Linked DNA regions of Homo sapiens. The protein of the gene in region 1 interacts with the protein of each later gene in a biochemical or structural test. Each region holds a gene or a part of one and is shown in the gene's direction. Other genes may lie near its edges.

Region 1 (8,011 bases):
CTGTTCCTCTAGAAACTTCCTCAGGTGTGCGAACTCAGAAATCACCTGTTGTCTCTTGGTGGACACCTGAGTCTGAGGGGGCAGGAGGCAAGCCCAAGAGAAAGTTTGCTTCCTCCTTCTCCCTCTGCTCCTCTTCCTCCCCTGTCCCCAGGTAGATCTGGAACTGTGTCATGGTTTCCTTTTCACTTGTCATCCCATTTCGAGAAGCAAGACTCACAGTGTTGTCTCAGCACCATCTGCTGCAGCTTCTAAAAGGGGTAGGGCTTACAGGAGGTGTAGGAGGAGGTGGTGGGGACACCCTACCTCCTGTCTTGTATGAAAAGCACATTATGTGCACAGCCCTGAGCTACTTTACAGTCACAATCTCATTTAATGCTTACAGTAATTCAATGAGGTCATGATGATTTTTACTCTCCATTTTACAGATAAGTAAACTGAAGTTGGAGAGTTGCTTGAGGTCATAGAGTTAGTGTCAGAGTCAGGATTTAAACTCATAATAACTTCAAAGCCCTATAATCTATGTTGCCTCAGTTTCAGGAAGACACTGGACCCTGAGGAAGGGGAGGAACCTGGGGAAGGGGTGATGACTTACCAGGAGGACTTGCATCCTTTTATTTTCTCTTGACTGGATTTCTTGAATCTCCTCTCTCTCTTTTCTTAGACATTTAAGACACTTATGGATTTGTTCCTGGGGAGAAGGAACATAAAATACTCAAGATGGAAAATGATTTGTTCAGGTTTGTCTGGTCATCTGACCCTCTGCCTCCAGGAATGAAATGGCCCCAGGAGAGGAGTCCCTTCCTTAGCTGACAATCCCCGAGCCTTCACCACCCTGACAGCTTACTCCCTTTGGGTCTTCTTCCTCTTGATTTGTCTCTAAGACTTTGGATCAGGACTTTCCCCCTTTATCCTGTGCCATTAGAGGCTGTGACTTGGTTTTCCCACTTGAGTCTTTCTTCAGGTTTAACATTCTATTGTGTTTTGCTTCGGGTAAGTGGTATCTGGGGTCTGTACTGAGTTTGATATGCCCCGCACTGAAATCATTCTGAGTTTCCGACTCATCCCAAAGGAACATGTGTAAATAACAACCCTCCCTTGTTACTGAAATCAATTATCTGTGTATGACTCCAGAGGGGAGAAGAAACTTGGGTAATGTAAAAATAATTGATAAATTGTTTTCAAAATTATTTGCTCCAGAATAGAGTTAGGAACAGGTACACACACGATAAATATGTGTGTTCAAAGATATATTAGAATTCTCACTATCAACTGCTAATTAACTAATTAAGACATCCACACACAGACTTGTACTAAAACATAATTCATAAGCACAATGCATAAACAACTAAAACCAGCACACATTCATTTAATGACAGATAAAATGGCATGCCACATACATTTACCCAGCCTGAATATATGTAAACACGAATTTATTCACAAACAGGAGCTCTCAGTTACACTTACACACTCAAATATATACATACTCAGACTCCCATCCAAACACACCAGACACACTTCTAAACATGCAAACATTAACACATATACACACTGTTTGTACAATCATTCCCTCAAATGCAAACTTCAGACACACCTGATCCATGGCACAGACACACACACTCATGTTTGGTCACTCATTCATTCAACAAGTACTTGTTGAACTCCCGTTATCTGTTGGCCACAAGTGAACACAGAACACACTCAAAAAAACATAAAACATAAACACAATTTTCCATGCCTGGGTCTATTGCCTGGGTGATCATGTAAGTAAGGAGAAAGAATTTGGCCTCCGGGTGGCCTAAATAATCCACAACTCTGCTGTTTCTCTTAGTCCAGTCCAGTCCACCCTGGGATCCCCCAGTTCCCCTTTCCTACCCTATAGGGAGCCGCTGCATCCTCCAGGAAGCGCATGGTGTGGGTAGCGTGCTCCCCAGCCTCCCGGCACACCACGCACAACTGCATCTCATCATCCTCACAGAAGAAGTAGATCTTCTCTCCGTGCTCTTGGCAGACATCCTCCTCTCCCAAACCCAGTGTGGACACCAGCTGGAGGCGCTCAATGTTCTCCACCACGTTAGCCAGCTGCCAGTTGGGCCGGAAGCTCCCAGGACGGAAGGGTTCTTTGCAGAGTGGGCAAGTAGGGGACTCCTCCAGGTCTGGGCCTGGTATCTCACAGTAGCGGGTAAGGCAGGCCCGGCAGAAGTTGTGGCCGCAGTCGATAGTGACCGGCTCCCTCAGGGTACCCTGACAGATGGGGCAGTTGACTTCATCTGCCAGGCTGGTCACAGAGGCAGCAGAGGCCATGCTGGTCCTGCTGCTATGGCTTCCTCAAGGCCACTCTCTCTGCTTGGCCACGGGGGAAGGGCTGGGTCACACACTCACACACCCACACATGCACATGGCTGGACACAGGCACATACTAAATATGCACCAGCACCCATATCGTCACACACTTGCATCTCTGGCAGCCAGGGTTCTATTCTCCTGCCAACAGCAGAGATGGGAAATAGCAGAGGAGAGGAAGGAAGAGGGGCTCACAGCATTTCAGAGGTGACCTTAGATGACCATAACCAGGGGCTGGCCATTCCTTTCTGCCCATCCAGAGACACTCACAGTAGAAGGAAAGTGGTGATATGTCAGCTGTCCACTGTCAGAAGAAATATTCTTTTGGGGGCAAGTGGGAGACTGGGTCACAGAGTGGAGATGCCATTCCAGCCTTTCTGCCATATGGCCAGCTGTCTCCAAAGAGATTGGAGGTATCAGCCAGCCCAGGGCTTGCCCATCAGCAAGCAGGAGAGTGTGGGGGCTCAGATAAGGTCCTTGTGCCAGGGTGTACACTGCACCAGCAACTTCAATGGTGATGCCTCAACTGGCCTGCTGCAGGCCTCAAAAGAGGCTGGAATATTCCCTATGATGGGGAGGAGAAAGAAAACTACTAACGGCCAGAATTTATTTACAATGACGGTACAACTTACATTGATACAAGCAATTTGGCCAGAATTTATTTACAATGACGGTACAACTTACATTGATACAAGCAATTTAAAAGTATGATCTTATTTCTGTGTCTGCTCTGCAACATCAGTGCTATTAGGATCTCCATTTCATAAATGAGAAAGCTGAGGCCCAGCCAGGTTATTCAGCTTGCCCTAGGCACACAAGTAAGAAGGTGAGTGACCATAAATAATTTGCTGTCAGATCTGTCTTCCGAGCAATGCTATTCAACATAAACGCAAAGTGAGCCACATATGCAATTTAAAATTTCCTAGTGGCCATATAAAAATAGTCTAAACAGGTGAAAGTAATTTTAATGATGTTATTTTATTTAGTCCTATATTTCCAAAATATTATCATTTCAATATGTGATCCATATAAAAAGTCATTAATAAGATATTTTACATTTTTAAATTTGTGAAAAGCCTTTGAAATCCGGTGTGTTGGCCGGGCGCGGTGGCTCACGCCTGTAATCCCAGCACTTTGGGAGGCCTAGGCGGGCGGATCACGAGGTCAGGAAATCTAGACCATCCTGGTTAACACGGTGAAACCCCGTCTCTACTAAAAATACAAAAAAATTAGCCTGGCGTGCTGGCCGGCGCCTGTAGTCCCAGCTACTCGGGAGGCTGAGGCAGGAGAATGGTGTGAACCCGGGAGGAGGAGCTTGCAGTGAGCCAAGATCGCGCTACTGCACTCCATCCCGGGAGACAGAGCGAGACTCCATTTCAAAAAAAAAAAAAAAGAAAAGAAAAAAGAGAAAAAGAAAAAGAAAAAAAAGAAATCCGGTATGTATTTTACATATACAGCATGCCGCCATTCAGACCGGCCACATTTCAGTGCTCAGTAGACACATGTGGCTGGTGGCTCCTGTATTGGACAAACTAGTTCCTGGGCTGCACTCGTGGCAGGAAGAGCAGAGATTGGATGGGAAGGGGAGGTAATAAAGTGATTAGAGTAAAAAGGGAGCAACCACAAGGGGCTAGGCTGATCACCCAGTGGGAGAATGGGGGAAGGCCTGGTTTTATCCACAGATGTGTGCATGGGTGAAGGACCGTGGCTGCAGATCTTGGTCTTGGCATGAGGTGTGGGAGGAGCGTAGGGCTTTAAGCCAGGAGACTGGGATCGTCCTTAACGTGATACTTTCTAGCTTTGTGACCTTTGGAAAGTCACTTTACATTTGGAAAGTCAGTTTACATTTCTTTCTCTGTAAAATGAAGGTAATAATGTTTGCCTAGAGGGTTATTAAAATTGAATGTAGTAATATAAAAATACTAAACCCTAGATAAATGTGGTTGAAACTGATTATCTGACTAATCGTTTTCTAATGTGTATCAACATAAATCATTTGCATTATGGTTTCTTGCCTTCTCCCCGCTACAGTAAAAATAAATAAATAAATAAATAAATAAATAAATAAATAAATAAATAAAATAGTCCAGTGTTACCCGAACCCCAAAGGGGACTGTTGTGCCAGGTGGTGGGGGATTTGGGACCGTAGGAGGGGCCACCATGGGCAGATGTGGTGAGGGAGGAAAGGAGAGCAGAAGAGGGGACCCGATGAGCAATCCTTACACCCTACCTGCAGTGTCGAAACAGCGTCCCGCCCACACACTTCCGGCAGAATCTCCCGAAGTCCACACCTCTCACTCCAGCCTGGACTTTGATGCTGTGGGCACGCCTCAGAGCCAGAAGTTTATGGCTCCCACCTGCTCAATCTGACAGGAAGCTTCTGCTCCCCAGTTCTCCCCAGCCACTGTGGTCTACAGATTCCAGGAAACCCATCCCCCTGTGACCTCATGGTGTGCTCTGTTCTCCACCCTAGGGACCAGAAGGAGCCAGGAGTAAAGAACTGGCTTACTTGGCCGCCACTGGGAAATTCTGGGTAATTCGAGACGCCCTGGAATTTGGACCCACTCCGCTGATAGGTGGTGGCCAGGGTTCTAGGGAACACAAGAGGCGGAGCCAGGTGGCTTCCCTGTGCTGGCATTCTTGCCTCTCTCTCTCTTTCTCTCTCTCTGTCTCTTAGCCTTGCAGCCGTTTCCCTCTGCGATTCATGTAAGTGTGACTCGATTTCAGGGAAAGGGAACTCGCGTGGGCTGAGGAGACCGGAGTGGACGGGCTGGGGAAGGCACCGTGATGCCCGCAACCCCGTCCCTGAAGGTGGTCCATGAGCTGCCTGCCTGTACCCTCTGTGCGGGGCCGCTGGAGGATGCGGTGACCATTCCCTGTGGACACACCTTCTGCCGGCTCTGCCTCCCCGCGCTCTCCCAGATGGGGGCCCAATCCTCGGGCAAGATCCTGCTCTGCCCGCTCTGCCAAGAGGAGGAGCAGGCAGAGACTCCCATGGCCCCTGTGCCCCTGGGCCCGCTGGGAGAAACTTACTGCGAGGAGCACGGCGAGAAGATCTACTTCTTCTGCGAGAACGATGCCGAGTTCCTCTGTGTGTTCTGCAGGGAGGGTCCCACGCACCAGGCGCACACCGTGGGGTTCCTGGACGAGGCCATTCAGCCCTACCGGGTAAGAAGTGTAGCTTTACCTAGGGCCTGTTTGGGGCAGGATGATGTCCTGTTATGAGGGGAGGAAATCGGGCGGGGATCTGGATGAAAGGCTTCCACATCAGGGAACCCTAAGGTTACAGGGACTTTCGAGGCATTCCCAGACTGAAGGCAGATAGGGCTCCACTTGGATGTGTGGTAGTTCCTGGTCTGGGGGGAACTTCAGCTCCAGCTCTCAGAGGACCCCACAGAGGTGGAGTGCAAAGAACTGTAGCCTTGGCTTCACTCACTATGGAAAGAAAGCTCCAATGCCGAGTGGGATCTTCTGCAGATTATGGGCAGGGTAAACTTGTTCTCCCAGGATCCAGACTGGAAATGGGGTTTATAGGGCCCTGACTGCCAGGGCGCAGAGGGGAGGGAGGAGCTGGGAAGGGGAACCTGCTAGCACTGCTCTTCTTCTTGAGAAAGGGAGGGTGGCAGTAGTCCAGAATTGTGAGAATTCCCCATCTGGCCTTGGGGCACTTTCCTGTCAGCCTCTCAGATCTCTCTCTTGTCATCCAGTCACCAGGTCTGGAAGTGGTTACCTTAGAAACATCTCCCAAATCTTTAATTCTGCCTTATCCTCACAGCCAGGTTCTCCCTATCTCTTGCGCAGACTTTGCAGTCTCCATGGCATTTCCTGTCTCCATTCTCACCCTTTCCAGTCACCTTCCAATCTGCTGGGAGACAGATCCTCCTAAAACACAAAGTCACTCATCTGCACAAAATCCTCCCATGTATACCTAGTGCCCAAAGAAAGTCCAAGGTCTTTAGCAAGACATTCAAGGCCCTTTGCAGTCGGGATCCTTCCTCCCTGTCCGGCCTCATCGCTCAGCCTCCCTCCTCAAGGCACCACGTGTCTGGCCAGACTGAGCTGCACTTGCTGTTTTTTCCTGAGTTGTCTTATTCATTCCTGCTTCCAATACTTTTTGCACATAGTCTCTTCCTCCTAGAATACTCTTCTCCCTTCCTCCCACCTCTCTCTCTGTTTTTAAGTATACAATTCAGGGGCACTAAGTCCTTTTCTTTTTTTTTTTATTATACATGTTCTGGGATACATATGCAGAACGTGCAGGTTTGTTACATAGGTATATACGTGCCATGGTGGTTTGCTGCACCCATCAATCCATCATCTACATTAGGTATTTCTCCTAATGCTATCCCTCCCCTAGTCCCCCAAGCCCTGACAGGCCCCGATGTGTGATGTTCCCCTCCCTGTGTCCATGTGTTCTCATTGTTCACCTCCCACTTATGAGTAAGAACATGTGGTGTTTGGTTTTCTGTTCCTGTGTTAGTTTGCTGAGAATGATGGTTTCCAGCTTCATCCATATCCCTGCAAAGGACATGAACACATCTTTTTTATGCCTGCATAGTATTCCATGGCATATATGTGCCATATTTTCTTTATCCAGTCTATCATTGATGGACATTTGGGTTGGTTCCAAGTCTTTGCTATTGTGAACAGTGCTGCAATAAACATATGTGTGCATGTGTCTTTACAGTAGGATAATTTATAATCCTCTGGGTATATACCCAGTAATGGGATTGCCAGGTCAAATGGTATTTCTCATTCTAGATTCTTGAGGAGTTGCCACACTGTCTTCCACAACGGTTGAACTAATTTACACTCCCACCAACATTGTAAAAGCATTCTTATTTCTCCACATCATCTCCAGCATCTGTTATTTCCTGACTTTTTAATGATCACCATTCTAACTGGTGTGAGATGGTATCTCATTGTGGTTTTGATTTGCATTTCTCTAATGACCAGTGATGATGAGCTTCTTTTCATAGGTTTGTTGGCCACATAAATGTCTTCTTTTGAGAAGTGTCTGTTCATATCCTTCACCTACTTTTTGATGGGGCTGTTTGTTTTTTTCTTGTAAATTTGTTTAAGTTCTTTGTAGATTTTGGATATTAGCCCTTTGTCAGATGGATAGATTGCAAAATGTTTCTCCCATTCTGTAGGTTGCCTGTTCACTCTGATGATAGTTTCTTTTGCTGTGCAGAAGCTCTTTCATTTAATTAGATACCATTTGTCAATTTAGGCTTTTGTTGCCATTGCTTTTGGTGTTCTAGTCATGAAGTCTTTGCCCATGCCTATGTCCTGAATGGTATTGCCTAGGTTTTCTTCTAGGGTTTTTATGGTTTTAGGTCTTACGTTTAAGTCTTTAATCCATCTTGAGTTAATTTTTATTTCAGGTGTAAGGAAGGGGTCCAGTTTCAGTTTTCTGCATATGGCTAGCCAGTTTTCCCAACACCATTTATTAAATAGGGAATCCTTTCCCCATTGCTTGTTTTTGTCAGGTTTGTCAAAGATCAGATGGTTGTAGATGTGTGGTGTTATTTCTGAGGCCCTTCTTCTGTTCCATTTGTCTATATGTCTGTTTTGATACCAGACATATTTGATATCATATACTACAGCCTTGTAGTATAGTTTGAAGTCAGGTAGCATGATGCCTCCAGCTTCATTCTTTTTGCTTAAG
Region 2 (7,032 bases), on another chromosome or scaffold:
GGAGTTTGTGGGGGGTTTGGAGGCACCAACCCCTACCCCTCTTGCCTAGTCCTTGCCTGTCCAAATCACTAGGTGAGAATGAAGGGTGGAGAGAGAGGAGGAAGCCATACCAGAGACCCTGTGGCTGGTGGATGGACTTGCTGGGGTTTTTCTCTGTCCCTCAAATAGACAAAACTTTGGAGAAAACTGAATAATGATGTGCCTTCTCCCTGACATCTGCACTCTATGATTTGTTCGTTTGTTTTTAAGACAGGGTCTTGCTCTGTCACCCCGGCTAGAGTGCAGTGGTGCAATTGTAGCTCACTGTAGTCTTGACCTCCTGGGCTCAAGCAATCCTCCTGCCTCAGCCTCCTGAGTAATTGGGACTACAGGCGCATATCACCACACCCAGCTAATTTTTAAATTTTTTGTAGAGATGGGGTTTCACTGTGTTGCCCAAGCCGATCTCCAACTCCTGTTCTCAAGTGATCCTCCCACCTCAGCCTCCTGAATAGCTGGGACTATAGGCATGCGCCACCACACCCAGCTAATTTTTAAATTTTTTGTAGAGACAGGCTCTCACTGTTTTGCCCAGGCTGGGACATGCTACAATTTGAATGTTACTTTATTACTTTTCTTTTCTTTTCAAGGTTGCCCTTTTCATGGTTTGCTCATATTCTACCCAGAAAAGACTTAGGAGACTTAGAAGAAGTTAGTACTTTGCATCCTACCTACACTGCTCTCCTTGGAGGAAGACCTTATTCTGGATTTTACAGAGCAAATCAGATCTGATGTTTGTAGCTTCCAATGTGCTATGGAGCTTCCTCCTGCAGAGTGACTTGGGTCTGGAGAGCCTGATATTTGCAACTGATGTCTGCAGCTTCCAGTGTACCTGCTAGCCCTTATAAACCTCACACCAGTACTTTGAGGTCAGAGTTATTCAAGAGCTTACTGAGACAACAGGCCCTGAGAAGCTAAGCGATTTGCCCTGTGGCATGGATGGTAGAGAGGGGAGCTGGCACTTGAACTCAGGTCTGGCTCGACCTCAGAATGAGTGATCTTGTGTCTCTGTGCCCCAGGACTGCATCCTCTCACCAATACTTCACCAGCCTAGGGATCTGTGCTCCCAAGAGCCTGTTGACATTGTAAACCTGAATCCAATCCATAAACCAAAAGCCCAGGCTTAGAATCACATTGTGGTGGAGCGGGTGTTTGGTGGAGTCCCTGATTCAAAATGTTTGACAAGGAAGCCTGACCATTTGTCTTCTGTTGGGTGTTTGGAGTCCAAGAGACCTGAGATCAGAGTCCAGCATTGTCACTTCATCCAGCCTTGGCAGTGTGGGATGTGACTCTGCCTCTGAACCGCAGTTATACCATCTGTGCTGGTGGCGTTGTGAGGATGGCAGGTAACAAAGGTGAAGCTCCTGGCCCCAGTGGGCCTTCAAGGATGGCAGCTGCTCCTGCCCCCTACTGGGGTTGCACTCATTCGTTGCCTGCTCTGGGGAGTCCTATGGGGTTTCTTAGCTGGCCCTGCCCATGGTGGAGAAAGAGGGATCCACCCATTGCTGATTGGGCCCAGAGGAAATGAGGACACTGCGTGAAGCCAAGACAGCAGGTGTGGCCCTGGAGAGGCCGTGGGGATTGGCCTGGACACTGGTTCCTTTTCTGCCGTTACCTAGATACCTACCAACTCCCTCTAGTTCCGGTTTGCTAGAGACAGGAAGCCAGGCCTCCTCCATGGGACCCGGAGGGCGGGGCGGGCTGTAGGACCTGAACTTCCTTGGAGGTCAGGCGACCAGACCCGGGGTCCTGGGCCTTGGAACAGACATCCCCTCTGTCCATCTGGGCAGGAGCATGGGGTAGGTGTGGCCAGCCTTGAGGGTAGGAGATCAGGACAGGCAGCTGGGACAAGGTGTGGCCCCATAGACCGAGGCCCTGGGTGAGGGCCTTGCTTCTCTATTCCCTCCTCTGAACACAGGTTGGGGGACTGGGAGCAAGGCCACAAGGAAGGATCACACTGGCAGGCCTCACAGCTTGGGCCTCCAACATTCAGGAAGTTGAACCCTTTAAGTATGGCATCATCTGGTAGTCATAGTGGCCTCTTACAGGCCAGGTTTTTGGGGTTTGGGGCTTCTGAGGAGTCAGACAATTGTGCCACTCACTGGCTTTGTTATTTGGAGCAAACACCTCTGACCTCTGCCTCTCCAAGCCCGGCTTTCCTCATCGCTTCGGGGAGAATCATTTCCAGCTACAGGGGGTATTAGGGGGATTAACGGAGACCTCGTACATGCTGCTAGAATGCCTAGCAGTCTGCCTGCTACTGATAAGTGGCAATAAACGCAGCCATTGCTTTTTAGATGTTTATTATCCTGAGGGCTAGGGATCAAGCTGTCAGCTCCCTGGACCCAGCAGGTTACCGGGGAGCTGAGAGCAAGCAAGTTGTGAACGGGGCAGGAATGAGGGTGTGGCATCCAGGGCCAGGCTGTCTGAGCCGTGGGGCTGTTGAGGGTCCCAGGAGGGGATGGAGGAAGTGGGGGTCAGCAGGTCCTACTCCTGCCCTTCTATACCCTTCTTTTCTGGAGACTGGGGAGACCTAGTGCCCCCCTGTTGGCTGCCAGGTGCCAGGGTAATGGAAGCTTACACTAGAGGGCTGATTTGGCTCCCTTGCCGCTGTTAAAAGCAGAACAGTGGGGGCCTGGAGCCTCTGGGGCCGGGCTGCTTGCCAGACTTCCGCAGAAACAGCCAATGGAGCAGTCTTGCCCCCTGCTCACTGAGGGGGTGGGGACCGCTGCACCAGCCTCACTCCAGCCCCCACCTCCCCGCACACCTTACCCCATAAGCCTAGAGCCTCAGGAGGAACCTGGAGCCTGGGCTTCTGCTTCCACCTGGTTAGGAGGGCAGGGACCATCCTGAGTGCCCCTTCCAGTCGGGGGCTGGGAAAGCCTAAGCTCTTAGAAATCAAGTGAGGGCCTGGCATAGCCAGGGCCCCTCCCTGTGACGTGGGGCCCCTCCCGCCCATTCTCTCCGCGTTGCCCTGCAGATTCAGAGTTCCAGACAGGCACTTCACTCGCGGCTGCGCGGCCCTGTCAGGAGGGAACGCAGTGCCAGGTGCCTGACTCCCAGAGGTAGGAGATCCCACAGGGCAGCCCCAGAGCCCGCCTCTAGAGCACTTTCAGTCCTGGGTGGCCAGAAGAAGTTAGCTTTGGGAGCCGGCTCTTGGTTAGGCTGGTCGGGGCTGGTGGCTTCCTGTCCCAAGGCTGGTCATTTCTCCCATGGGTGGGGCAGGTGCTAGAAGGCATTAACTCTTGAGGTGCAGGCAGGGAGGGCCCTGCCACGGGAGAGTCCCCAGGATCCCGGTTCTCACCTGCTACCCGTGCCTTCTCTTTGCAGACGCCCTGCTGGCGGACTTGGAGTCTACCACCTCCCACATCTCCAAACGGCCTGTGTTCTTGTCGGAGGAGACCCCCTACTCATACCCAACTGGAAACCACACATACCAGGAGATTGCCGTGCCACCCCCCGTCCCCCCACCCCCGTCCAGCGAGGCCCTCAATGGCACAATCCTTGACCCCTTAGACCAGTGGCAGCCCAGCAGCTCCCGATTCATCCACCAGCAGGTGAGGCGGGGACAGTGGCTGGGAAGGCCAAGGAGGCTGGGGGACAGAGGGAACTTAGCTGGCAGGGGCTTAGGGAGCCAGGGGATGGAATGGAATTGGGGCAGTCGACCCTTCCCAACCAGACACTGCTCTTCCCACTCACCACGTGAGTGGAACAGTGACCAAGTGGTTAATCACAGGTTTCCTGGCCCAACTGTGGAAATTCCCTGGTGAGACTGGCTGTGGGCAGGAGCCTCCTGGGGGTGACTGGAGCTGCTCCTGGCCCCTGTTCCTTTTTCTCCCCTCGGGGTAGCCTCTGAGCATTCTCCTTCTCGCAGCCTCAGTCCTCATCACCTGTGTACGGCTCCAGTGCCAAAACTTCCAGTGTCTCCAACCCTCAGGACAGTGTTGGCTCTCCGTGCTCCCGAGTGGGTGAGGAGGAGCACGTCTACAGGTACTGCCCCAGTCTGCCCAGGGCACCTTCCCTCCTGCTTAGAAATCTCAGGGACCTGGCCAGGGTGGGAGGCAGCGGAGGCCCGGGAGCAGGCATAGCAACTGGGCCTTGTGGGGTTATTCTGGTTTAAGCTGCAGAAGGCCTGTCGGTGGGCCCGTCTACCTCATCAGTGCCATCTCCATGCAGTGGACATTCTGGGCTATCACAGCATCTCCGTGTAGCTGAGGAACTGAAGCAAGACTTCATTCCTCCCCTCTTCTTTTTTTCTTTTTTTTTGAGACGGGGTCTCGCTCTGTCACTCTGTCGCCCAGGCTGGAGTGCAGTCGCGCGATCTCGGCTCACTGCAAGCTCCGCCTCCTGGGTTCACGCCATTCTCCTGCCTCAGCCTCCCAAGTAGCTGGGACTACAGGCACCCACCACCACGCCTGGCTAATTTTTAGTAGAGACGGGGTTTCACCGTGTTAGCCAGGATGGTCTCAATCTCCTGACCTCATGATCTGCCCGCCTCAGCCTCCCAAAGTGCTGGGATTACAGGCGTGAGCCACTGTGCCCGGCCTCCTCCCCTCTTCTTACCACATCCCTTCCCTACCCTCTGTCCTCTTGCGGGGGAAGACTTCGCATCTCCTCTGCCTTGTTCTCCTTGGGAATCTGGGAACTGCCAAGCCAGTACAAGGCCAGAAAGCATCTCTCACTATCTTCTTTCCTTTGCCTCTCAAAGCTTCCCCAACAAGCAGAAATCAGCTGAGCCTTCACCCACCGTAATGAGCACGTCCCTGGGCAGCAACCTTTCTGAACTCGACCGCCTGCTGCTGGAACTGAACGCTGTACAGCATAACCCGCCAGGCTTCCCTGCAGGTAGGACCGGGTCCCTGGGGCAGGGTCTACCAGGGCCCAGGGCCCATCTGCTGACCTCTAGATCCCAGGAGGGCTCAAGGGCTGAGCAGCCTTTTTCTCTCCTCTCTGCAAGATGAGGCCAACTCAAGCCCCCCGCTTCCTGGGGCCCTGAGCCCCCTCTATGGTGTCCCAGAGACTAACAGCCCCTTGGGAGGCAAAGCTGGGCCCCTGACGAAAGAGAAGCCTAAGCGGAATGGGGGCCGGGGCCTGGAGGACGTGCGGCCCAGTGTGGAGAGTCTCTTGGATGAACTGGAGAGCTCCGTGCCCAGCCCCGTGTGAGTACCCACTGGGCCCTCCCCAGGTGGGGAAGGGCTGGCCCAGCCTGCCCCGGGTCCAGTGTCTGTCCCCTTAGCCCTGGTATCACCCACTCCCTCCCGTGTCTGCCATTTGCCAGGCACTGGGGGGATAGTGGTGAGTCACATGGACACCATCCCTGCCTTCAGCCAGTCACTGCCAGTCAGAAAGGACAGACGTTGTGCAGGCTGAGGGCGCCTGGAGCTTAGCAGCTCTTAGCACAGGCTTTGGGGCCACACAGTGGGGTTCACATCTTGGCTCTGACAGTTACTGTCAGCTCTCAAGCCTTAGTTTTCCCATCTGTAAAATGGGACAAGAACTTATGGGATCACTGGGATAAGACCACCTACCTCAGTAAGGGTGAGAACCAGTAATCCATGTAAAGCGCTTGGAATGGTTTCTGGTGTGTAGTGCGTGGCACACATGGTGAGTGCCCAACACGCGAGCTCTTACCAGTGCCGTCGTGTTACTGCAGTAGCCTCACCTCCATGTCCAGTGTTGTGGAGGAAACACAGGGCGCTTGGGCTTGTTTCGCAGGCCAGCTTTCACTTGGGCTGGGGGCTAGAGGAGTCTTCCTGGCACTTCCTGGTGCCATTGAACTGCCCTTTCTTCTGACCCAGTGATGGGTCCCCAGGAGAGACAGGGAGCTGGTGGACCTCCCTGGGGTTGGGGATGGTGAGACCCCAGTGTCCGAGGTGAGAGGTCGATCTGATCCCCGGGAAGTGTGGGGCTGACTGTGGGCTCCCCACTGATGCTGTGCCCACCCTGCAGCCCTGCCATCACTGTGAACCAGGGCGAGATGAGCAGCCCGCAGCGCGTCACCTCCACCCAACAGCAGACACGCATCTCGGCCTCCTCTGCCACCAGGGAGCTGGACGAGCTGATGGCTTCGCTGTCGGATTTCAAGGTGCCCTGTGAACCCTCCATCTTCCCTGCCCTGCCGCCCCTCCCTCATCCTTCTCCTCCCTTACCTCAGTGTGGGTAGCTGGATCTTGGCATCTCAGTGTTTGGGTGCCTTGCCCCTGAGCCAGGGACACTGTCATGCCCTGGCCTTGCTGTGATGCCAGGAGATGGGGAGGGAGGGCCGGGTCAGCCTGCCTGAGGATTGCAGTAGCCAGTGAAGGCAGACAAGCTGGAGAAGTGCTCAGCTGGGACATTCCTTCCTCCCTGGGTGCTCCCAGCCTCTCAGGTCGAGGGGATCAGGAGGCTGGGACGCTGGGACAAAGAACCTTGTGTTGATGGCTGCTCTGGGTGGGGGAGGGCATTCTCTGCTGGGCCATGTGGGACTTGGGAGCCTGTGCCTGGGAGGTCATTTGCCCTGGAGCCCCATCTCCCACGCTAGCTGTCCTCAACACATCCTCTTTCTTTCTGCCTCTGATCCTGAATCCACAAGCCTCCCTTGCTACTCTTCTCCCATCCTTCCCTCTCGCCCTCCAGGGCCTCTGAGTTCCCACGAGCGTGTCTGTGGGAAACCATGGGGCCAGGCTTGCACGAGGTACCTGCCCTTCCCCTCCCCTGCTGGGCCTCCCCAGTCCTGCCAGGCCTGAGATGTTTAATTTAGAGGATTCAGTGTTTCCTTGGGGATTGATATTGACAGAACTCACCAGCAGCTGCTGACTTCATACTTCCACGTGGGTCAGCTGGAGACCTTTGGGGCATGACCTAGGGAATATGAGAGGGGAGTGAACGGTCCCTGCACCCTTGGCCCTGATGGTGTCTCCTAGCCTCCCTTCAGCTGAGGTTTCATGGTGGGAGACAGGAGTGTGGCTGGGGTGGAGGGTTGAGCCTGGCCCTGTGACCCTTGCGTGCTATAGT
Region 3 (7,907 bases), about 27 Mb from region 1:
ATTTGTCCAAAGACTTCAAAAATATCAATGTCATGAAGGATTACAAAAAAGAGAGAGAGACTAGGAAGCCTCATCTCCACAAAAAATACAAAACTTAGCCTGGTGTGGTGGTGCCTGCCAATAGTCCCAGCTACTTGGAGGGCTGAGGCAGGAGGATCACTTGAGCCAAGGTCAAGGCTGCAGTGAGCTGTGTTCACGCCACTGCACTCCAGCACAAGCAACAGAGTGAGACCTTGTCTCAAAAAGTAAAATAAAATAAAATAAACGGAATGACCATTTCCTAAATAGATAAAAGGAGACTAAGAAGACATGGTGATTAAATGCGCTATGTAATTTTTGAGTAGATTCTGTTATGTGAGAAAGTGTCTTTTTTCTCAAGAAACATACACCAATTCATATAGGGGTAAAGTTTCATGAGATATGCATCTTACTCGCAAAAGAGAGAGAGAGGGCAAACATGGAAAATGCTAACATTTGGTGAATATGGGTGAAGGATGTATAGGTATTCATTGTACTATGCTTGCAAATATCCCTTAGAAAGTTTAAGGGATATAATTAAAGGAACAATTTGTGTAGCCACTGTAGAGGTAATAAACTGAAACTTTATGTAATATTTCTGAAAAATATTAATTTTTAAATGATCCAATCCATATTTTTATCTAATTTTTAAAACCTGTTTTATTTTCATTTTTGTATTTCGTAATACTTAGCTAATTGCTGTCACTTAGAAGTTTTAGTGGTCTAATATCAAAATTTCCTGTAAAGAAATCTGGATATTCCATAACATCATTATCTTTCTTGCTCAAAGTATCCTATCTCCAAGCAGAAAATAAAAGATAGAAATTACTTTTAAAATTACTATTAATTTTTCTATTAATTACAAAATCTTATATTGCATGATATTCATGCCAGGAGAAGAAAAGCGTGAGACTCTTAACTGTCTCCTGCTCACCATTCCTTTTCTTTGGCCCTAGGTGACCTGGCAAGTGTGGAATATAATTTATGTTTCCCTGGATCCCAGCCTTGGTCACTGGGGACAGATGACCACAAAGTGTTCAGTTTTTTCCTCTCCTTTTAACAAGCTACTTTTTGTTAATCATATTATTGGGTTTTCTTTTTCTTAATGACTCTATTGAAGTATAATTTACATATTATAAAATTCACCCATCTCAAGTGCACAATTCTGCATTGTTTTAAGAAACTGAATGAGTTGTACAGTCATCACTACCACACATCATCGGGTAAGATTCTGTTTACAATTAACCCCCATTCCTGCACCCAGCCCCCGGCAACCACCAGTCTGCTTTCTACGTCTATAGATTTGTCTTTTCTGAGCATTTTATACAAATGGAATCATACAATCTGTGCTCTATGTTTCTGGCTTTTTTTTTTCAATTAGCACAGTGTTTTCGCTCATCCATATTGTAGTAGATACCAGTATTTCATTCCTTTTAATTACGTAGTATTCCATTTGTATGTGTATACCACATTATCTTTTCCCAGTCTCCAAATCATCCGATGGACATTTTGGTTGTTTTCAGTTTTTGGCTATTGTGAATAATGCTGCTGTGAACATTCATGTGCCATGGTTTCTGTGTTCATATGTTTTCATTTCTCTTGGGTAGATACCTAGGAGAAGAATTTCTAGGTCATATGGGAAATAACTTTTTAAGAAATTGCCAACCTCTTTTATAAGACACCTGTATCATTTTATATTCCCATCAACATATTTGGTGAGGGTTCCAGTTTTTCCACATCCTTGTCAACACTTGCTTTTCTCTGTCTTTTTTTTTTTTTTTTTGGTAGAGATGGGGTCTTGCTATGTTGCCCAGGCTGGTCTCAAACTCCTGGACTGAAGTGATCCTCCTGTCTTGGCCTCCCAAAGTGCTAGGATTACAGGTGTGAGCCACCACACCCAACCTATCTTTTATTTTTTTCATTATTATTACAGCTCTCCTAGTGGGTGTGAAATGATGTTTCCTTGTGGTTTTAATTTGCATCTCCCTGATGACTGATTTTGAGCATTTTTTTTCATGTGCTTATTAACCATTTTTATATCTTCTTTGGTGAGGTCTGTTTTAATCTTTTGTCCATTTAAAAAACTGGAATGTTTTGTCATATATTATTAAGTTGTATATGCTAGATGCAGTCCTTTGTCAAATATGTGACTTCACAGTATTTTCTATACATCTGTAGCTGGTCTTTTCATTTTCATAATAGTGTCTTTTCATTTTCCTAATAGTGTTTTTTCAAAGGCAAACGTTTTGAATTTTGAAGAAGTGCAATTTATCAATCTTCGTTTTTATGGGTCGTATTCAGTGGTGATTTTTGAAAGTAAGGAAGTTCTATTGTAATGTGGGTAACAGGGATGCAGTAGCTTTTTATTTGCATTTGGGTATTTGTACTGTTGCTCCGCTTTTGTGTGTAAACATTCAAGAGGTCTTGTTCTGGAAACATTCAGAACGCTGTGTAGAAACAAAAACTCTTAGTGTAATCCAGCCGGGTTTCAATGCCAACCCGTAGACAAGAGCTGTCGACGATGTTTCTTCATGTGGCTCCTTTGACAACACAGTCTCTTACTCAGCTAATGGAAATGTCCCTTGAAAAAAATCAAGGGATTCTTTTCCATGGCTCTGTAGGGTGCTGTTTTCCTGATGTTGGTATTTTTTAGAGAAGTATAACTCCAAAATATGGAAATACTGGAAAAGTGTTCCTGGGCCTGCTCATATTCCTCACTAATGAATTTTTCCGGGTATAAGAGCATCTTTAAGCATGCAGAACATTTTATGGGTATGGACTTAGGATCCTGAGGCTAGGCTGATAGACCAGAATGAGTATGCATGTATAACCTGTTTTTTTGTGGTCAAGGGTTGTGCCAGCAGTGTGCTTGTCCTGTATGCCATCGGAAGCTGGGAACAGTGTGATGCAGCAGAACCAGACAATCAGTCACTTTTAGCATGGATTATTTTAATTGACTTGCTTTTTAGGGCAAGTAGACACAATTAAAGATCATTCTATCTAGTCATTAATCAAATATGTATTGAATGTATATTGTGCATGGAAATGTCTATATGTGGATGCCTTCCAAATTCTTATCTCCAGCCTACACCCCTCCCCGGAACTCCAGTTTCTATCTCCACAGCCTATTCAACTTGAACGTTTAATGGACTTGCCAAAGACTTCATGCCTGACCTTTCCCTCCAGAGTTGCCCTTCCCACAGCCGTCTCCATCTCAGTTAATGTTCACTCTGTCTTTCAAGTGCTCAGAAGAAAATATGCAAAGGTGTCTACCATCTTTCTTTCATACCCCATACCCAATCTATCATAAATCCTACTGATTCTAAATGTACTGTGGAATCCTGCATGGGATTCTGGAACAGAAAAGGGGCATTTGGGGAAAAAAAAAACCCAGCAACAATAAAGTATTGAGTTTAGTTAATAATAACGTTCACCATGGTTCATTAATTGTGACAAGTATACCATACCAACGTAAGATGTTAAAAACAGAGGATTCGGGGTGCAGGGCAAGGGGAACTCTGAACTACCTTTGCACCTTTTCTGTAGATGTAAAACTACTCTAAAAGGAAAAGTTTATTACAAAAAAATAAGCTAAGGAGCAGATTCTCCTGGCCTCTGGCTCACTCAAGCCTGTGGTTGGTTTGCTGGAGCCAACGAGATAGGAAGTCTGCTTTTGCGTGGTGGTGGTCCGGGTGGAGGATGTGGTTGGATCAGCAGCAGCCCACACACATCTTGCCTCTGGCAGGGCATTTGTTGCCTTATCAGTACTTCTACACAATTTAATTATACTAACAAAATTGGTAACCTCAAACCAGCTTAGTCTTTGTATAATACTTTTGTCAGATAATTTATCTCCACAAATTTATAGTTCCACTTCATTACTTTTGCTGAAGAACAAAGCTCTCCAATCTGAAAAATAACAAGCGTTTTGTGTTTTAAAAAAGATTTTGCTGTAATTCATTAATACTACATAAAATGGAAAAATATGTATTTTTATTTCACATGGAATGCATCGATCTGAATTAAAAATAAGGTTTTTTTTTTAAAAGAAGCAGAAGAGCAGCAGAGGCTGGTGTTAGAATGGGGCATAGAGGGGCTAACACAGGCTCCAAATAAGAGGTGACAATTGGCCAGGCCCTGAAAAATTGCAGGGTTTTCAAGACTGCAAAGTCCAGCCTCTGGGCAATCAAAGTTTTATGCCACTTCAGTGAATCTAGGGATGCACTACTGTGAGAGTCGGGCAGGTGGGTTGAAATTCCCCTTTCTTGGTCTGTGCAGAAAACTACGGATGAAGTCCTAGTGTTGCTTAAGGAGAATTTATGAAAAATTTATTCCTGTTTCCTGGATGCCTGTGCCTTTGACCTTTCCCTAGAGCTAGAAATGGTTGGAGACTTTGCAAACATCTTTAAGAACTGAGAAAAATAAAACAAACTTGCTAACTGCTTTCAGAAGATCTTCTATATTGCAGTTGGATATGCTCAAAGCGTAAGATGGGCAAACAGAGGTGGCTGTGGGGTTGCCACACCTGGCATTTTCCCTACTGGGGGAAATTTAATGAGCACTTAAATAATCCTGAGTCTGAAAGGGGCAGAAGGTCCAGGCAGATGATTGCCGAGGACAAATCTAGCTTTGTAAATCCGAGAGTATTGACACAATGATACGAGGGAAAGGTGAAGGTGATATTTCATCCAGTGTTCCCGGTTCATCCTCTCCTTACCTGACCTCTGAAATGGAGCCATTGGCCTTGAAAAGCCTGGTGTCTAAAATTAATATTCTTCCCCATCTGACTAAGAAGGCAACAGCTGAGCAACGTGAGATCAAGAGCCATATTAATTTAAACAGGGGCTGAAAGTGGCATTTGAGAGAGAAGATACTTCCTCTCGTAGTGGACACTTGTCTTTTCAGAAGATTTATACGACTGAGAGTCAAAACTTTTACCAGAGACTTTCATAGTCAGTTTGAATTCTGCAAAATTTCTCTTTATCTTCTGGAATGTATGCTCTAGACTTGGAGTGGCTCAAGCTCTTCGATGTGATCCTATCAATGGTAATTATCTTTGTTTATTGTTATAACCTCTCAAATCTCCTCCCCTTTTTTCTAAGTTACCTTCAATAACAAATTGTACCAAACTTCAGGTAGAGCTTAATGTTTAATATTTCTTTGCAAAATTATTGTATCTTAATCCTAAGCTTTTGTTTTAATACATTAATTTTGTGTGGCTTCCTGATCCAACTTGAGTTTCATCTGCAATTAACCATAGTATTTTAGTCGTAGTTTGCCTTAGAAATAGCCATGCATTTGTTTCCTTATTTTAATAATTTTTTCAGGGCAATTTGAAAGAATGCTAAGAATGATCTGTAATATATCTGTAGAGCTCTGGTTGATAGTATTAATATTTGCATTTTTATTTGTTTGAATGTAAGCTCTTTATGTGGATAAGTATAATTTGTTAGAGCAGTGAATTTTAAACACTTTGGAACTCAAGAGTATCATTTTACTATAGGAACTGACAAAACAAAATATTAAGTTTTCTGATGAGAATCACAATACGGTTTTTAAGCGGAGAAAATGCTCGAAGAGGCGCTTTTCGGAAAATCTCCACCAGGGGGCCTCAGTTGTCAGCCATGCGGAACTAGCACAAATTCAAATGTCTCTCCCTCTCCCTGCCTCTCTATGCAATCAAGTGATGTGTACATATAGACATGCGTATATGTCTCTAGTATCAAAGCGAATTATGTATGCTGCATTACTTCATTTGCGAGGAAAGTATTTTAAGGAGAGTGAAAAGACTCTGAACTTCTCGGTACATAGCTGTTAATGCAGATGCAAGGAAAGGTATCTGGGAGTGCTGTCCACGTGAGAAGACTGTAAGGAAATAAATTTCTTTTCACAAATAAACACCACACATTTTAAGGCATAGGTAGAGAAGAGTTCTGGAAAAGGACTCATTCGGGAGCGATCCCTCTGCAGAGGGAGGCCAGGGGAAGCAGAGAGACCCCTTCTGTGATAAGCCCTTCCCACGGGGCTGCAAAACCTGCGGTTCCAATTAAACCCAAAGATACTTTATAATTTACATCCAAGCTGGCCACTTGATCTACGGCTTGTTTTGTGCAATAAGGAGCATATTTCATCACCAGTGAATCTTGACATTGCTTCTTACTGTTTGCTTTTGTAGTTTTAAAGTGAAAAAATTTTTTTTCCTTTTAAAGTTCCAATGTTGGAAACTCAATATGAATGTTAGTATTTCTTTTCCTGATTTTGGATCCTCTCTCCAGTTTAAACAGAAGGGACTTCCAAATTCTCACTGGTCATTTTCTCAAGAAGTCAAATGCATGAATACGTGATGAGAACTTTTTGTGTTTCCTTTCTTTGCAGTCAAGAGAAAGAAGCACTGAAGAGTCATAATTGTGTCCTGATTTATAAATCGGAGACAGAGGGAGACGAAAACCACACTCCAGAAAGTAGCTTAATCGGACTCACTACTAAGATGTTAAAAGTGAAGAGGCTGGAAGAATTCAACACGTGTTATAACAGCAACCAGCTGGAGAAAATGGCCTTTTTTCAGTGCAGGGAAGAGGTGGAGAAAGTGAAGTGTTTTCTGGAAAAAAATTCTGGGGACCAGGATTCAAGATCTGGACATAATGAGGTAATCATGTTCTAATTTAGTCTCCTAAAAAGTATTCATTCTATCTTATCTTTTCTAATGTCATGGAGCCGCTTGTGAGTACAATTAAGGAAAGTTTATGAATAGGCATCATTCCACTTTGCTTCAGTGAGAATTGTGTGTGTCGACTATACAATTGTGTTTGGTAAATAATTAGGAGGCCTTTGAAACTGCATTTCTGCCAGCAGTCGACTTCACTTTTAGTTAGTGGCTTAGGAGTTATACAGCCAGCTTGCAGAAATGAAGAAGAATCCTTTAGCATGATGGATTTGGGCTTGAAATTCAGAAAAGGGCTCTGAGAGGCACACTGTTCTGCAGAAAGAAGTTTCTCCTTTTTCCTTCAGATCTTGAGTTCCTCACGCGGTAGACAGCAGAGCTGTTGATAGTGAAGTCCAGAGAAGGGACAAGAAAGACTTGCTGATGGCACGACGGTGGGGCTTGTACCCTCCTCTGTGCAGAACGAGAGTTCTGAGCCCCATTCCAGCTGCTCGTTCTTGGGAAAAATATTAATTTAACCAAGGGCTTGCCACATCTGAATTAGTGAGATAATAGCAATTGTGAAAATTAAGTGTGATCACGTCTGTAAAGCACTCCGCCTAGTATCTGTCACTAGAGTCAGCATTTAATATGTGTTAGCGGCAGCAGCAATTACCTCCCCTGCCTTGGCCCAGTCAGTTCCTGCCCATCATCCGTTGGCTCCTTGCCCGGTGGGAGCATCAAGCATTTTGCCCGTGCCTTCATTCCAGCACATGTGGTGGTTTTGAACATGTTGATCACCTTTCTCTAGACAAGGCTCCTTAAGGTTGGGAAACCTCGTGTTATTTGTTCATGTTTCCTCAGTTGCTTTCCTAGTAACGGAAACAAATAGGCACCAAAAGTGTTTTTGGAATGCACAGATCTATTTAAGTGAATTCTGGTTGAGGGCTGGGAACCATTATTTTTGATAATCAGAGCAAGTGATTCTTATCAGGCAGGTTTGGAAAACATCCTTCTTTGCCCAGCTACTGTTCTAAAAAACACTATTCAGGTAGGAAGGGCGTTTCTAACAATGCAATAGACAATGAAATAGAGAGATTGTATATAAAAGGTCTAGGAGGCTTTTTATTGTAAGTGAATAAGAAATGACAAAATGTGCTGGAGAGAATAAATGAATCAGATTGAAACATTTTTTTGAGACCTCTGCTTTCCCCATGAGTTCAATATAGACCAAGGAGAAATATCTACA
Region 4 (7,426 bases), on another chromosome or scaffold:
CTGAGCTCCACCTCCTGTCAGATCAGCGGTGGCATCAGATTCTCATCGGAACTTGAACCTTATTTTGAACTGCGCATGTGAGGATAGGTTGCATGCTCCCTATGAGAATCTAACTAATGCCTGATGATTTGAGGTGAAGAAGTTTCATCCTGAAACCACCCCCCAACCTGTCTGTGGAAAAATAGTCTTCCATGAAACCGGTCCCTGGTGCCAAAATGGTTGGGGACTACTGGTCTAAGGGACATTACCCTACTACCAAATCATTCCTGATGCACAGGCAGGTGCAGGACCTTCTAAGAATTACCTCCAAATGTTGGCTTTGCCTCAGCCTTCCAGCAAATAGGCTTCACTTTCTCTTTCAACTTCTCACATTATCTAGAGACACTGGTTATACTGACTACATTATCAGTTGAGCAAAAAAACATTCCGCTATAGCTTTGTAGGTTCAAAAGGATCGCTTGAGCTCAAGAGTTTGAGACCAGCCTGGGCAACACAGTGAGATCCCATCTCTTAAAAAAAATTTTAGCTGGGCATGGTGGCATGCATCTGTAGTCCCAGCTACTCGGGAGACTGAGGTGGGAGGACTGCTTGAGTCTGGAAGTTTGAGATTGCAGTGAGCCATGATCACCCCACCACACTCCAGCCTGGGTGACAGTAAGACTTTTTTTAAAAAAAAAAAAAAAAAAAGAAAAGAAAAAGACTTAACACTTATGAACTCTTTGTTGTTAGACTAAAATGTTTTTTCCAGGTGTGTTTCAGGCCCTCCATGTGATTAAGAAAAAATTATACTTTCCTGAGCTTCAGTTTTCTTACCTGAAAAGAAGGATTAAGAAAGCTTGTCCCAGCCACCTTATCACTGTCTTGCCCAAAAGAATCGCTGGGAAACAATGAGGATCTGTACTGCCTTTGAAACTCTTGAGGAAAACATTAGTTAATTCATGCTTTAAAAGGTAATATGCCTACTATAAGATTTTCTCCAAATTTCTGACCTCTGTTAAACATTCATAAAATCTTGGCTTATCAGGTGTAAACCAAGTCTAGATCAATCAAGATGGTCTCTGTTTCAGCTCTCTGGGGGAGGGATAAGTAGGGGAACTCGAGAGAAAACAGGTAGAAAATAAGTTTTGCCTGGCAGGAGCAAGGCCTCTGAATTTCTGACTTTGCACTTGGAGGCTGTCCCCTATTGTCTTCAAAGGTCCCCAACCCCTTCTCTATCATGTGAAAAATAACTCTGCATTCTAAGATAAGGCACTGTAGATGCTGCAAACCAGGGGTGTAGTGGAAGCATGCCCTCCATCACACTTACAGTTCAAGCCCTCCTTCTGCAGCCCTGCTGTTTCCAAAATTCCAGCAGGACAGCTGACAACTGCAGCAAAGAGCAATTATTTCTCTGAAAAAAAAAATTTCAAAGTGACTTGGTGAAGCAGGGTAAGAAGAGTTCACCAGAAGCCACCTGATAGGGTTCGGCTGTGTCCTCACGCAAATCTCATTTTGAAACGTAACTCCCATAATTCCCACATGTCATGGGCGGGACCCGGTGGGAGGTAACTGAATCATGGGGGTGGGTTTTTCCCATGCTGTTCTTGCAATAGTGAATAAGTATCACGAAATCTGATGGTTTTATAAAGGGCAGTTCCCCTGCACACGTGCTCTTGCCTGCCCCCATGTAAGATGTGCCTTTGCTCCTCCTTCACCTTCCGCTATGAGGAGGCCTCCTGGGCCGTGTGGAACTGTGAGTCCATTAAGCCTCTTTTTCTTTATAAATTACCCAGTCTTGGGCATTTCTTCAGAGCAGTATGAAAATGGACTGATACACCACCTCTGCCAAGAATCTGTACATTGTCTAATGTGTTTTTCGTCTCACAGTAAGACCAAATAATTGATGTATCTAAAATGCTACACAACAACAACAACAACAACAAGTTTTTCTGACCTGTTGGAGAGGAATGAGGCCAACTATTCCTGCCACTCTCGTTTCTCCTTTACATGTACCTGTGAATAATAAGCAAATATGCTGTCCTATAATATAAAGGTGACCATATCAATTAGGAGCACATGTGTAAATAATCTAAAGATGGTTAGTTCAGTCTGCTGAGGTTTATGCATGCACAAGTCATGTTCATTTGTGATTCTCTGATACAATTTAGTAAAGAAGCATCCACACCTAGTTTATCTATTACTTTGGGGATTAGTAACCAAGTTCATTCTCAACTCCTGGAGCAGTAAAATCCGATTCTTTTTCTAGAGAGAGAAAAAAATATGTGAATACTTGAGACAAAAGCCAGAATTCAAATAACTGCAAATATCTAGGTGAAAATGGATTCATTACTTTCTCCTCTGGATACCTAATTAGTTAAGAAGATCTCCTTCTGTAGAATAAAGTATTTTAAAAGTTCATGAATTCCTGGGGGAAAGAAGAGAAACAGGCATTAAGTGTCTGACCACCCATGTCTCAACACGCTAGGCAGTTATCCTTCTTGTAGCCCTCACAACAGCCCTGCGAGGACTGGTTATTTTATCTCCTTATAGATGAAGAAACTTAGGCTCGAGAATGCTGGAACATCTCAGGGCACAAAGATGGGGGCAGAGAGAAGGTCTGAGTCCGGGGCAGATAGGCCTTCCACTCCAACAGTGTTTACCAGACCAGAATCACCTGGGAGTACTTGCGGAAAATACAAAATCCAGCAAGCCCCATTCTCTCCACGCCGCTCATCAACAGGAAAGCTTGGGAAAGACAATACTACTTCACGACCCAGTCAGGAGACCCGAACTTGTTCCATTCCTACATTCGTGACTTCTCCACCCAAGGACACTCCCCGCACCCGCGCCCCAACGCCTTCACAAAACCCAACATATCCGCGATCAAACCTTCAACTCTCCCAGTGGCCCCCAGAGGTCCAGAGCTTGGAATCTTCTTCTGCCTCCTCACCTCTGAATCCCGCCATTCTTCTCCCTCCTGTAGAATTTCATTTCCTGGCTGGGACCAGGCTCTAACCATCAGGCTTCCAGCCGGGCCCCGGAACTTGCAGCCCGCTCTAGCCTGTCTGGCTCCTGCCCGAGCCCCTCGGCTCCAGCCTGCTCTCATCCCAACCCTGCCTCTTCCGTCGGTCACGTTGTTTCCTCCGCTTGGAAGGACCTCTTTCCTCTCCGGGCCCTTCCCAGTGCTCGGGGAACTCCTACACAGCCTGCGCTCCTCCGCTTCCAGCCACCCTCGCCTCCCACCACCCTGGCTTTGGAGCTGAACCGGCCGCGCAGCCGGGCGGCGACCATCCGTCCCCCGGCCGCTGACCCCAGCGCTCCGGCCTCGCCGCAGTCCCTGGCCCCTCGGCGTTCGTTTCCCCACCCGCCACCTGGCTTTCGCCGCCGCCGCCCGGGAAGCCCTCGGCACTTCCCAGAATAGAGAGCAGCTGCCAACGTCAGGCTGCCGCCTGCCGCGGGGTTCCGGACACGCGGGGTCTGGGCGGAGAGGACGTGACTCCGCGCTGGCCTTCCGCCTTCCCTCCCCGGTCGGGAAACTGAGGCCCGGGACCGGGAACCACTTCCCCGCGAGCACGGTCCGCGAGGGCCCGGCCAACCCCGGTCCTAGGCGTCCCGACTCCCGCGCGCGATCCTTCGACCACACGCGCCGCTCGGTCACCTCAGAGAGCGTGGCGGGGAGCGGGTCTCAGAGCGAGCGCACGGCCCGGGAACGCGCAGGGCGCCAGCCCCGGCCAAGTCGCTGCGAAAGTTGTTGTCTCCCAGCCTGCCCTCGCCTCTCACCTCCGGGACACACCTTCCCGCTTGCCCTGGCAGCAGCGCACTCACATCCGGTCCACCTTGCGCACACCCCTCTCCGCGCTCACTCGCAGCCCCTCTCCCTCCCACGCCCGCGGCTCCCCGTCGCCCCCTCGCGCGCTCCCACCCGCGCCCGGGGCGCGCCTTCCCCGCCCCGCCGCTCGCCCGGCCTCGGCGCCGCGCCCGCCCGGGGTTCCGGCGCCCGGAGCCCCAGCCCGGGGCCGCGACCCGCTTCCGCCCGCCTGGCGCGGGGCCGGAGCCCGAGCAGCCACTGCCGAGCGCGGTGGGCGCGAGGCGAGGGGCGCAGCGGCGCGGGGCGGGGAGGGGGCGCTCGCTCGCTCCCTCTCGGCTGCGCACACGCCCGTACAAACTCTCACACAGACACACGCGGGGTGCGCTGCCGCCGCCCGCCGCTGCTCCTCCTCCCGCCACCGCCTTGAGAGGGAGAGAGAGGGAGGCAGAGAGAGCGCTTTGTCCGCGCGCCGCCGCCCGGCCCGGGACTCTGCCCCGAGGAGGCAGCCGCGCCGAGTCCCCGCCTCCGCCTCTGCCCCCGGGCGGGCCGGGCCGGCCGCGGTGGGGGGAGCCAGGCTGAGGGTGGGGGTGGGTGGCGGGCGGGCGGAGGGCGGGGAGGGGGGGCGGAGGAGGAGGAGAGACGAGGGCAGCGGAGGAGGCGAGGAGCGCCGGGTACCGGGCCGGGGGAGCCGCGGGCTCTCGGGGAAGAGACGGATGATGAACAAGCTTTACATCGGGAACCTGAGCCCCGCCGTCACCGCCGACGACCTCCGGCAGCTCTTTGGGGACAGGAAGCTGCCCCTGGCGGGACAGGTCCTGCTGAAGTCCGGCTACGCCTTCGTGGACTACCCCGACCAGAACTGGGCCATCCGCGCCATCGAGACCCTCTCGGGTGAGCACTCAGCGCGGCCCCCTCCCCCCGCCTCGCCCCGCTCAGGCCGGGACGGCGCCGGGAGGGAGGCCGAGTCCGGCGGGCGGCGCCCGGCGGCGGCTCCCGCGCCCGCACGCTCACTTCCACGCACCAGACCCTCAACTCTCGCCGCCGGCCCGCTCCTGGGACGGCCCGCTCCCCTCCCCCCACAGCTCTGGACTCTGCCCTCGCCCTCGGGGCCGCAGCCTTGGGGCGCCCCCCGTGCCGCTCCGAAGGCTCCCGAGGCTCGCCGGCTCCTTAGGGGCACCCCTCGTTCGCCTGGCGCCCCGGGCTGCTCTGAGCTTCCCCGCCCCCCACCCTTTGAGCGTCCCCTGTCTCACTTCTCCCCTGACCTTCCTGTCACCCCCTTTGTCAGGGTCCCCCCTTCCCCAAATCCAGCGTCTCTTCCTCCTCCCCCGGCCGGACCTTCTCTCTTCCAGTGCCTCGTGCCCAGAACCTCTCGCCCTCTGGCGTCTCCTGAGCCGCACTCTCCTTTCGAGCCCCCTCCCCACCTCGCCCCACGGCCCCCCACTTTTGGCACCCCCTCGGCGCCACCCTGGTGACCCCCTTCGAGATCTCGGGGCTCCCCCAGCCCCAGCCCTCGCACGACGGCACATCCCCTCGGTCCTTTCCCGAACCTCAGTCCCCTCTCGCTTGCTCTCTCAAGCGCTCCTATTTTTCTCTGAATTTTTTGTCCGATTTTATTGAGAAGAACTCGGGGCTGGGGGCTTTCCGCCGCCCGTCCCCCCGCCTCCCGCTCGGCCAGAAGCACCTTTTTACGAGGTGCCCTGTCTCAACTCGGTGGGGGCCAGGGTTGAGAACCGGGAAAGAGGCGACCGGGGGGCCCGCGAGCGCGCTGGAGCCCAGACAGGAGACGGAGAGCGACACACACACACACTCGCGCGCGCGCACTCCCCAACTCTCCCCAGCACACGCTCCGCTCCCAGCCGCGCGGGCCCCCGGGCCCCGGCCGGCGCCCCCCGAACCCCGGCCCGGCGGGAGCCCCTTCCCCACCGGCGTGTGGAGTGGGGGCGGGGCGGCGGCGAGGCCAAGGTGACACCCAGGAGCGGGCAGGGACAGGGCTGTCGCTGCGGCGGACTCCGGGGGGCTTCGGCTCGTTTTCTCGGGGCCACCGGGAGGAGAGGGCAGGGAGGGGAGCCCGGTGGAGCCTTCGGGCCCCGGATTAGCGGAATGGAGAGGTGGGGGCCGGGAGAGCAGCGGGGCCGCGCCAGCCCTGCAGCTTGAGTTTCAAATGAGCTCATCCTTTCAAATTGGCGCCGCTCTTTATTAAATTTGTTTTTCCGGTAATGCCACCCACGGCTATACCTGGGGTCCGACCCGGGCTCGCACCCTCCTCGCCTTGTCCCGAGACACGGGGCGCCCACCTTTCTTTCTACTGGGAACCAAGTTCGCCCAGCTCGATCCGGGTAGGAGACCCCTTGGGGGCGCCCGAAGGCGGAGCCCGAGCGTGGAGTTCCGTGCGTGCCCCCCCTAGACCCCCGCGGGCTTGATCTAAGCAAGGTTCTGAGTGCTTTAATTTCTGTTTTAAAGGTAAAGTGGAATTGCATGGGAAAATCATGGAAGTTGATTACTCAGTCTCTAAAAAGCTAAGGTAAATATACTTTGCTTAGTTTTTTTTTTGCGATTGGCCTTACGTATAAGTAAAAAACGTACACACAGCTTTAAAAAACGTGCTCTTGGTAGTTTTTAAAGGGGCTTTTGTTTGTTTTGTTAGTGGAGATACATAGTTTAGAAAGCTACTTTTTTTTTTTTTACTTTCATTATATAAGGTGTTTACTGTTCTTGGAAAATATCTGGTGCCTAATTGGGGGTCGGGGTGGCGAACACCAGCTATGTTCAGTTCGCTGGGACCCTGTAACTTGTTTATCAAAAATTGCCTCCCACCCCCACCTCCCGCCCCTACCCCCAGCAGAATAGCAGCAAATGCTTGTCAAGACTTCCTGTGAGATGTGAAGAGTAAATATTTACTATGTCAGCTAAATTGCTTAACTAAACTTAGCGATTAATTACTTTTCTCTTTTAGATAGTTTAATGTTGAATAGTAAAATAATTCAGTAAGGGGTCAATATTTTGCATAGCTTTCTAAAGAAGTGGGTTGTTTGGATTGGATGGCAGTTAAAAGCCGGACTTTTTCAGTCACTGAGACTACTGAGTATAGCTTCTGAGCATTTTGTTGTTGTTGCTTGTAAGAAATGTTTGCGGCTAAAATAAATACCCTTGTGAAATCTATAGTTATATTTAAGTGCACTGTTGTTAATGACGGAGTAACAAGTTTTGTGGAGGTTGGATTTCTCCACAGTGATTTGCTAACATGAGAAGAGAAGAGAAAACATCTTTGTTTAAAGTTTATTGTGGACTTTAAATTTGGGCCCTTTATTACTCATTCTAAATTTTTTTCTTCTGCTGTGTGTCGAAACTTAGTTTATATCCCATTCACATACATTTCTTCACCATTAGTCATTAAGTAGCTGGACTGGAGCTGTTCAATGAAGTTTTTGATGACCACCTTTACAGTTTATCAGTCAATAGTTTAACCACCTGATTTTTGTCAGGATTGAGTAGATTTTAAAACAAACTACCCTAATTTTATAAATACTTAGATGTGTTGCTGAAGGGATTTTTAAAAATTGTGTGCCACATTTCCAGATATGTTTTATTTTAAGTAAGCAACAGAATAACTTTTGTTTGCAAATAATCTCTGTGGCATAT

What was found.
Region 2: the proteins of TRIM15 (region 1) and PXN form a complex in vitro, tested with the Homo sapiens proteins (one study listed by BioGRID).
Region 3: the proteins of TRIM15 (region 1) and MYLK4 form a complex in vitro, tested with the Homo sapiens proteins (one study listed by BioGRID).
Region 4: the proteins of TRIM15 (region 1) and IGF2BP2 form a complex in vitro, tested with the Homo sapiens proteins (one study listed by BioGRID).

Annotation. Positions count from the first base shown.
Region 1 is NC_000006.12:30,158,558-30,166,568, forward strand, and holds the start of TRIM15 (E3 ubiquitin-protein ligase TRIM15), read left to right. Parts: upstream 1-4,988; 5' UTR 4,989-5,044; coding exon of another isoform or gene 5,045-5,046; 5' UTR 5,047-5,127; coding exon 5,128-5,508; intron 5,509-8,011. Other genes in the region: TRIM10 (tripartite motif-containing protein 10), read right to left, coding at 1-72, 593-688, 1,873-2,241, 2,611-2,724.
Region 2 is NC_000012.12:120,220,715-120,227,746, reverse strand, and holds part of PXN (paxillin), read left to right. Parts: intron 1-629; exon of another isoform or gene 630-1,378; coding exon of another isoform or gene 1,379-1,394; exon of another isoform or gene 1,395-1,563; coding exon of another isoform or gene 1,564-1,594; intron 1,595-2,325; exon of another isoform or gene 2,326-3,369; coding exon 3,370-3,596; exon of another isoform or gene 3,597-3,913; coding exon 3,914-4,029; exon of another isoform or gene 4,030-4,747; coding exon 4,748-4,884; exon of another isoform or gene 4,885-4,996; coding exon 4,997-5,198; exon of another isoform or gene 5,199-5,988; coding exon 5,989-6,124; exon of another isoform or gene 6,125-6,432; intron 6,433-6,821; exon of another isoform or gene 6,822-7,032. UniProt on the Homo sapiens protein: Cytoskeletal protein involved in actin-membrane attachment at sites of cell adhesion to the extracellular matrix (focal adhesion). Recruits other proteins such as TRIM15 to focal adhesion.
Region 3 is NC_000006.12:2,747,893-2,755,799, reverse strand, and holds the start of MYLK4 (myosin light chain kinase family member 4), read left to right. Parts: upstream 1-4,877; 5' UTR 4,878-5,064; intron 5,065-6,393; coding exon of another isoform or gene 6,394-6,505; coding exon 6,506-6,664; intron 6,665-7,907.
Region 4 is NC_000003.12:185,822,035-185,829,460, reverse strand, and holds the start of IGF2BP2 (insulin-like growth factor 2 mRNA-binding protein 2), read left to right. Parts: upstream 1-4,418; 5' UTR 4,419-4,500; coding exon 4,501-4,678; intron 4,679-6,047; exon of another isoform or gene 6,048-6,123; intron 6,124-6,247; coding exon 6,248-6,308; intron 6,309-7,426.